Linked DNA regions of Homo sapiens: region 2 is reported to be linked to region 1. Evidence: microRNA targets listed by miRTarBase, many of them from high-throughput screens and not tested one by one. Region 1 holds a microRNA gene; the other region holds the end of a gene's coding sequence.

Region 1 (4,549 bases):
TTATAAAGAGCAGTAGCTTTACAGTTAATCTATCAGATAATCAAAGCTTAATTTGCTCTGCCCCAGCAGAGAAGAAATGTGCAAATAACCCCAACCAAGACATTCCCTTTCAATTCTGTCTCAGCCCACTAAAACCACCCAACACTAGATTTCCAAAAATCCACTCTGGGACCGTCAGATTCCAAAGATGTCACATGTTCCCCCCAACCCCCACACTCAATGTCCCAACTCTGCCAGATACATGTCTGTTGGGAGGGCTCAACCAGCAACAGAGAGAAAAAGATATTTGCTAGAAAGAGGAGACCAGACCCACTGGCGTTAAGAAGGGGACCTGGGAGGATAAGATTGGAGAGGCGTGCAGATATGCTTGCACTGGTGAAATTGAGGCCAGATGTGTGAAGTTCCAGAAGCCTCACAAAGAGGGCAGTCCTGGGAGAGTGGAGATTGTAGGAAGAGAAGGAGATTATTTGAAGATCTCCTCAACAGCTCAGAGGTCGGGAGAACATAGCATTGGAAGGAGACCAAATCGAGAAAGAGAAATTGGCCAAAAGTCTGAGTTAGAATCAAGTAACAAATATGCAGTTATCCAGCACATAGTAGGTATGTTATAAAATTTATGGAAAAAAAAAAAAAAAACCCAGACCTGTACACACCCCCTGAAATTTCTATTTTGAACATGGGGAAGGAAATAAGAACTATTTTGGGCTGCTGACCCAACTGACGGGACAGTGGCCAAGTGCCCATTTTCTCCTCTTCCACTGCACTGGTGAAACAGTAGGCATCTTTGCTAGAGATTCCCGCTCCACAACCAAGGTGGCTGGGCTTGCTCCAGAGCCCTGAGCCTGCCAGGGGTGGCTTTGGATGGTGCTGAGATGTGACCTCTGTGATTCTCAGGTGACCAAAGCAGGAAAAGAGGATTGACCAGGTGCATGTGCCAGGGGGGAATGGAGCAGCCTGTGCACCCTGCCAGGTACCCGCCTGCCACGGTGGCTGCTCCCAGCCACAGAATTTATGGGCTGTGAATTTCTCACATCTATGGAGGAAAAGGACAGGACAGGCAGACTGAATAAGCCTGGGAGGCAGGTCAGGGGTTGACAGATCTTCCCTCCCTGGGGGCACCCCAAGTGACCAGCCAAAGAGGCTGGCTCGATACAAGAAGGCTTTCCCCCATTTCTCTCTGCTCTGATTAGTTGGGCATCTGATTTGTCCTTGAGACCCTGATACTGCCACTTCACAAGATCCTAAACTACTGCCTTTACTCCCCACACTCCCCTTCCACCACCAGGTTCTGATCTCCACGGTCCCAGCTACTGACTGGACGCCATCACAACCTTACCAATCTTCAGAATACACTCCTTTCCATCCGACGAAATGATAGAACCCTCTGAAGACTCATTTGAGACGATGATGGAGCATAAGAATCCATCATCAAAACAAATGGAGTCCTCCGAGGGCTCATCCAACACCACCGAGGCGACGTCGGGCAGTGGAGTGCGGGGAGAGGCAGGGCCAGCCAGCGGCCCAGCCCAGGAAAAGAAGGAGCCCCCCAGTGGCCCACTCCAGGAAATGGAAGAGCTGCCCACTGATCTACTCCAAGACATGGAGGAGCCATCCAGTGGCCCACGTAAGGAAATAGAGGATCCACCCAATGACCTACTCCAAGACCTGGAGGAGTCATGCAACGGTTCACACCAGGCAAGGGGGGATCCACTCAGTGGAGCATCTGATAGGATGAAAGAAGCATCAGTCAACCCATCGGGAGCCCGAGAAGAACAAGAGGCTCACACTGACCTGAAGGAATCGGGAAGGGAGGAGACTCCTCAAGAGCAAAACCAGACCGAGCACTCAACCGCAGAACTTATGGCCATGGTGAGGTCCATCATCTCGCTGTACTTCCGAATGCAAGACCTCAAAGAGCAACAGAGAGTAGCAGAAGAGATCTTGATCAAAGGGATCAATGCAGGCCAACTGCCCGCCCCAAAGCACTTCTCTGGCGATCGCAGAGAATTCCACGAGTTCATCGTACTCTGCCAACTGACCTTACAGAGCTACCCAAGAATGTTCTATAACGACCGTCTGAGAGTTGGCTATGTCATCAATCACCTGTCCGGCTTGGCATTAGAATGGGCCAAAGCTCTACTGCAGGAAAACAGCCCCCTGATCGGAGACTTCCCAGCCTTCCTGGAGGCCATGTCCGAAGTGTTTGAGTACCGCCAGGCACTGCGTGTGGCAGAAGAGGCCATGTTCACCATCAGGCAGGGCGGCCGCTCTGCCACTGAGTACATCGATGAGTTCCAGAGCCTGGTACCCATCTTGGGCTGGCCAGATGAAGTCCTGCAGGCCCACTTGTGCCAGGGGCTCAACGAGGAGATCAGGCACTATCTATTCCGGGTCCCTCAGCCGGATTCCCTAGACAGTCTGATTGTGCTCATCCTGCAAATAGAAGAGAAGCTGGCAGAGAGAAGAGCTATGCTCAGGCTGCCCCCCGAGGCCCGCCCCCGGAACCTGACCTGGATCGACTCACCTGCTCCAGAGAGGTGGATGGTCAGCAGCTGGTTGCCCAGCGAAGTCCATCCGGACATCAATCGCGCCCACCTCTTCCTGCTGCTCATGGTGAGAGTGAACCCCTACCACAGCGTCGCGGTCCAGGCCCTGGTGGATTCGGGAGCTGACGGCAACTTCATGGATGAGAAGTTCGCCCAAGAGCACTACGTCGAGCTCTACGAGAAGCCGTACCCACAGCCGGTCCAATCCGTGGACGGCTCGCTGATTGGCAACGAGCCTGTCTGGCTCTACACGGAGCCCCTGGTGTGTATCCACCAGAACCACCAGGAGTCCATCGAATTTGACATCGTACCTTCACCGAACTTCTCTGTGGTCCTAGGCATCCGCTGGCTCCGAGTCCACGCCCCCGAAGTCGACTGGATCAAAGGCCGCTGCACCTTCCACTCTCCCTACTGCCTGAAGAACTGCTTCCGCCCGCCCCCGCCATGCATTGCCCTAGAGAGGCACGGCATGAGCCTGCTACCCGGACTGCCACACCCATACTCAGACCTGGCCGACGTGTTTAACCCGAAGGAAGCAGATGATGAGACTTCCGACCAGCCAAGCTCAGACGGATCCGATGATCTTTCTGAATCAGAGCCCTCTGAGCTTCAGCAGGCTGGAGACAGTGATCACAGCGAGACCTTTTACGAGTGTCCCTCCACCGCGCCTTGGGAACCTGTGGGTGCCAGGATGCAAGAAAGAGCCAGGCTACAGGAGGAATACTGGGACCTGCAGGACATGCTGACCAACAGACAGGACTACATACAGATGATTCCGGAACTGTTTGACCAGTTACACGGAGCCGAGTGGTTCACAAAACTGGAGCTGCGTGGGACCATTGTGGAGGAAAGCGTGAACGGGCACCGCACCGAAGATGTGTGGAAAGCAGCGTTTGGTTTGGAGCTTGAAGAGATGAAGAGCTACCAGCCGTTTGCGCTCTCCCCAGACCCTATCATACCTCAGAACGTGATTCACTTCATCCTAAAGGACATGCTAGGGTTCTTTGTGCTTTCTTATGGCCAGGAAGTCCTGATCTACTCAATGAGTCAGGAGGAGCACCTCCACCACGTCCGCCAAGTCCTGGTCCGCTTCCGCCATCACAACGTCTACTGCTCCCTGGACAAGAGCCAGTTCCACCGCCAAACCGTGGAATTCCTGGGCTTCGTCGTCACCCCCAAAGGGGTGAAACTGAACAAGAACGTCATGACCATCATAACAGGGTACCCTACCCCTGGCTCCAAGCTATCTCTGCGAAACTTCATCGAATTCGTCTTCCCCTACCGCCACTTCGTGGAGCGCTTCAGCATCATCGCAGAGCCCCTGGTGCGGCAGCTGCTGAGCTCCTACCAGTTCTACTGGGGAGTCGAGGAGCAAGAGGCCTTCGAGTGCCTGAAGAGGGCTTTCCGCAAGGCGCCTCTCCTCCACCACCCCAAGCCCCAGAACCCATTCTACTTGGAAACCGGCGTCACCGGCACGGCCCTGCACGCCTCCCTGATCCAAATCGACGACCAAACCGGCAAGAGAGCCTGCTGCGCTTTCTACTCCCGCAACATCTCCCCTATCGAGGTTGAGTACTCTCAAGCGGAGATGAAGATTCTTCCAATACGGGCTGCCTTCATGGTGTGGTGCCGCTACCTGGAGAACACCGAGGAGCCCATCATGATCCTTCTCAACACAGAGGATCTAGCCTCTCTGAATAATGACAGGCTCACCGTACTTCTCCCCGGGCATTGGGTCTTCTTCTTCTCCCACTTCAACTTTGACGTCATGGAGCTGCCAGAACAAGACGGCGGCCGAGCTCTGCCACCTGTGAGAAACCTCCGGTGGAGGAGAGCCTTCCAGAGGAACACTGCCGCCAGGCAAACCCTGCTGCTGGCCTCAAGGGGATTCCCCAGGGATCCATCGACGGAATCCGGGGAAGAAGAGAATGAAGAACAGGATGAGCTCAATGAACAGATCCTACGGCAAGAGCTGCTGGCCATGATACCCATCGACCAGATCC
Region 2 (4,000 bases), not on the chromosome of region 1:
GCAGTCCGGCCGGCGAGATAGTGAGTGCAAAGTCTCACACAAATTGAGTCAATAGAAGTGACCCTGAACAACTGGGCTATTTCATAATTTAAGTTTATCAAAGAGAGACTTTAACATCCTCTCCCTCCCTCCCCTGAAAACCCAACACTGATAATATAGATTTTATATTGATCACAGGACACTACACAACAAACACAAAGACACTACACTTCTAGTAGGACGAGTCACGATTTCCTTTGATGTTGGGCTATGGAATAGCTAGAAAGTTACTGCTCATCACCACAGCAGGGTACCATGCGAGTGGATAGCTTAATAAATGCATTCATTAGTTAATGGCTTTAAGGGTTAGCTATTATATATATGGAATGAGGAAACCTCATTAGGAATGGCCACAGTCTCAGCAAAACTCAGCTCTAAATATGCAAAGACTTTGAAGTCCTGCTATTAACAAGATGACATGAATTGTAAGAATACATTTGACAGGCTCTAGTAAGACCCAGCAGATCGTCCATGACCTGTGCAAAGGCACCCCACAGTGGCAGATGGAACTGGCAAGAACTTGGTAGGAAACGTGTCACACATCCCCACAATAAAATGATACTTCAGAAAGACAGACAGGGGTGTCCTTCCCATGATAGTGGCAAAGAAGGGATCCTGGGTCGGGGAAGTCGATGGGAAGGAAAGAAATGGAAGGTGGGTAGAAGAGTAAAATAGGGGTTGTTGCATCCCAGATGCTGCCCAAGCTCCAAACTACCAAGCATTCTGCACTTCCAGAGTTACCTGGTGTGAGGTGAGGAGAGGGATGGGATGGAGGCAGCTTGCTGGACAGGGGGTGACTGCAGGCTGGGGAGGGGCTGGGAAGGGGTTGGGGACAGCTGAGGACTCAAATGACACAGAGGACAGACCACATACAAGACTCAACAAGGGGAGATCTGGCAACGTGCAGGCTAAAATGACCAAATCCATAGCAAACTCAGAAGGTTCACGTTCCCGAAAGGGTGTCACTGCCAAATCTCCACCTCATTTTGACACTTAACCTACAGAGTATGAGTCGCAGTAGAGTTCAACTGCTCTCATTGCAGCACGTCAGGGCAAGATATCCTTTTTAAGGTATAGTATTATATCTAGCTATATGGATCTATAGAGATATTTACAACTGGCCTCGCTGCCCTTCCTCTGTGCTGTGAAGCCTTCATGTGCATTGCTTCCAGACAAATCTTAAAACCCTCCTTTTCTTCACACTGCTCCAATCTCCCTTTATGACTTTATCCCAAATGAACTGCTTGCCACCACAGGGTTGAAAGCACCTCCAGGGTGCTGGAGACCCAAATCCACGTCAACCAACCAATGCTTAGGCTCCAGGAAGCCAGCCTTTCAATAGCCACATTGGGAGCTTCAGACATGGAGTCACTGCTCTCCCCTCCACCTGAATCTCTGTATGGGGTATCCAAAAATAAAGAGGCAATTTTAGCTCTTCCAGTGGTAACTTTCTTGTTTTCAACTGTCGTACAAGATTTGTGTGTGTGTATGTGTATGTGACTGTACAAGTGTCTATTCTCAATGCCTCTTTCAGCCTCACTCCCCAGCCTGTTACCCCGAAACATGTTCCTCTAGGACAAAGTGAAATGCTCTGTACTTGCAGCTTCTTCCATGGATTAACCACTTCCTACCTCAAGGCACTAGCTCACCACTTCTTAGGACTACATTCACTTCCCCAGTCTTCTATCTAGGAGACAGCACAGATGGATGGAGGGACAGGGCAAACAGTGGAAGGGAACTGGGAGATGCTGCTCCCTGGAACAGGAAGTTGGAAAGAAACAGTCAGTTAAGCAGCCCGGCCAAATAGGGCCCCTCCACCATATGGGAGCAGGCCAAGGGAATTATAGTGGTTCTAGAAGGGTCACCAACAGGGAATACATATGCTTTCAGGGGTATTTCCTTTCACACCCATTCAAATCAGATAAACATAGATATGCAGACATGCCCTTATATACATGCACTCAGCATAGACCCATGTGTACACAAGCATACACATACATAAGCCACACTTTCACAGGGATGTGCACACACACGCATGCATCCACATGCTGTAGATACAATTCTGTACACACCAATGTAGATTTACACCACTAGACACGGCACTATGCAGCTTCTCAAATGGTTGTATATGTACATACACCCACCCTGCTGCATATGCATACACCCAGGTATATACAGAAACACAAACACAGAAGCACAGTTAAAGGGTGAGTGGGTAGAGGGGTAAGGGACTGAGGGAGAGACTGCATAGGGAGGAAGAGGTGGCATATGTTGAGTGCTCGGCAAAGTTCACTCCCTCACAACCTCCATCAGTGAGGTGGAGCTGCTTGGCAAGTTGGAATGCTGGCCAATCCTACTTCCGTTAGGGGCCCTGCTCAGTGGGCAGAGTGTGTTCTCCATCTGCTCACGTCACGCTCATTGGCTGGTCACCAGCCTATTCCTGCAGAGATGCCCCAGGTGCTAGAGGATGTGGTGGGGGCCCTCTGGAGCACCCTCTTTAGGGAGGGAAGAAAAGGAAATGCCTCAGTTGGGACAGTCAGGAGGAAAAAGACAAGAAAGAGCAAGTGGGGTGGATCTACCACTCACTGGCTGCATGTCCTCAAGCATGCGGCATAAGCTCCATTCGTTTTCCTTGGAACACTGGGGACAATGTGCTTTGCCTTCCCTGGCTTACAGGGCTCCTGTGAGGCTCCAGTGATGTAATGGGTCAGGGAGCTTGTTGACACTTACTATGCACTAGACAAATAGAAAGGATTAGTATATAGACTTACGATAGATATTCATCTGCTAGTCTAGATCAGATGGTAAAATAGCAAGTGTGAATTATCCTAACCTTAGTGCTTATTCACCAAGTGCTGTAACTGGTGATCAACTCAGCAACTGACGGAAAGCTAACTCCTGACTTAGACAGATGTATTGAGTCTCTATTGCCAAGCGTTCTGAAGCAGAAATATAGGCAAGTTCCAATCCCTCCGAAGAGGCCAGCTCAACTGTGTAATTTCCAACCTGACATCACCCCCCACCCTCTGCCAACCCCACAAGCTGAGTATGTGCTCTCTCACCCTGATGTCTCACTCTGCAGCCCCATCCACCCACATTCCCCTTCCACGCTTGCATCAAAACACCACAGTCAAATGCCATACAGTGGGGGAAAGGCACTTACAAATGCTCCCTAAGTTTCCTATAGGAAGTTCCCTGAACTTCTAAGCCATGGCTAGCCCTTTAGCTATGAACCCCAGCCCAACCCAGCTTGACTTTCTTCTATAAAGCCCTAAGCAGAGGGTGAACAAGACCCATAATCCCTAGGAGGAAACAAAAAAAGAAGAAAACATGTAATGAAAAAGAAATGTTGACACCTCAAGGGGGACAGAAAAGCCCCCCAGAAATGTTTGTGGGCAAAAGGCCCAGATCCTTGCCCCATCCCCCAACCTGGCTCTTCTCTGTCCTCTAAACATTTCCAGGGGCTTTTCTATGCTTATTCCTTGTTACAAGTCTTTGAAAAGGTGAGAGTCTTCTAGCAGGAAAGGAAATCCATGTGCTGTATACCTCCAACTCCTCCTCAATCCCTTCCCTTCCAGCTAGAACATGTTCTTTCCAATTACTCCCCACCTCATGTTTATAAAGAGAAGTATGAACTTATTGGATTGCCCAAATAACCACAAAATAAAAGGAACAAAGGAAAGAGGGAAAAACAAACCCAAAAGAAACTGAAAGGAGCACAGCACAGTGCTCCCGCTGTTCTGGAGCACTGGGGGACTAATACATATGGTATACCCAGTAAACAATGTTGAACAACCCAAAGGCCAGAGGGAAGAGGAACCGGGACCACTTGTCGACCTTTGGGACGTAGTCAGGATTAAAGAGATCGAAGGAGAACCCTTCAGTGAAGGAGCACCCAGGGCTTGGGGGGCAACTATCCTCAGACTCTGAGCTACTGTCCTTCTCTTGGCCATGGGCCATG

What was found. The annotated mature microRNA hsa-miR-432-3p reads CUGGAUGGCUCCUCCAUGUCU and lies in region 1 at 1,596-1,616, opposite strand. An mRNA with a match to its seed (bases 2 to 7 or 8) in the 3' UTR can be bound and repressed. Matches are read on the target gene's strand: a 7mer-m8 pairs with bases 2 to 8, a 7mer-A1 pairs with bases 2 to 7 and ends in A, and an 8mer does both.
Region 2: the mRNA of GABRQ is a reported target of hsa-miR-432-3p. Seed matches in the 3' UTR shown: 7mer-m8 at 1,744-1,750.

Annotation. Positions count from the first base shown.
Region 1 is chr14:100,881,611-100,886,159 of GRCh38, reverse strand. MIR432 (microRNA 432) reads right to left here and starts at 1,677; the gene lies at 1,584-1,677. It overlaps RTL1 (retrotransposon Gag like 1), which reads left to right. Exons shown (of 4, transcript NM_001134888.3): 4 at 1,286-4,549. The coding sequence starts at 1,372. It overlaps MIR433 (microRNA 433), which reads right to left and starts at 4,274; the gene lies at 4,182-4,274. MIR127 (microRNA 127) reads right to left here and starts at 3,181; the gene lies at 3,085-3,181. It also overlaps MIR136. RefSeq lists a silencer at 174-468.
Region 2 is chrX:152,653,077-152,657,076 of GRCh38, reverse strand. It overlaps GABRQ (gamma-aminobutyric acid type A receptor subunit theta), which reads right to left. Exons shown (of 9, transcript NM_018558.4): 9 at 1-4,000. The coding sequence ends at 3,796. All of the region lies in intron 2 of MAGEA3-DT (MAGEA3 divergent transcript), which reads left to right. Among named protein-coding and RNA genes, the nearest start is that of GABRQ, 17 kb to the right of the region's middle.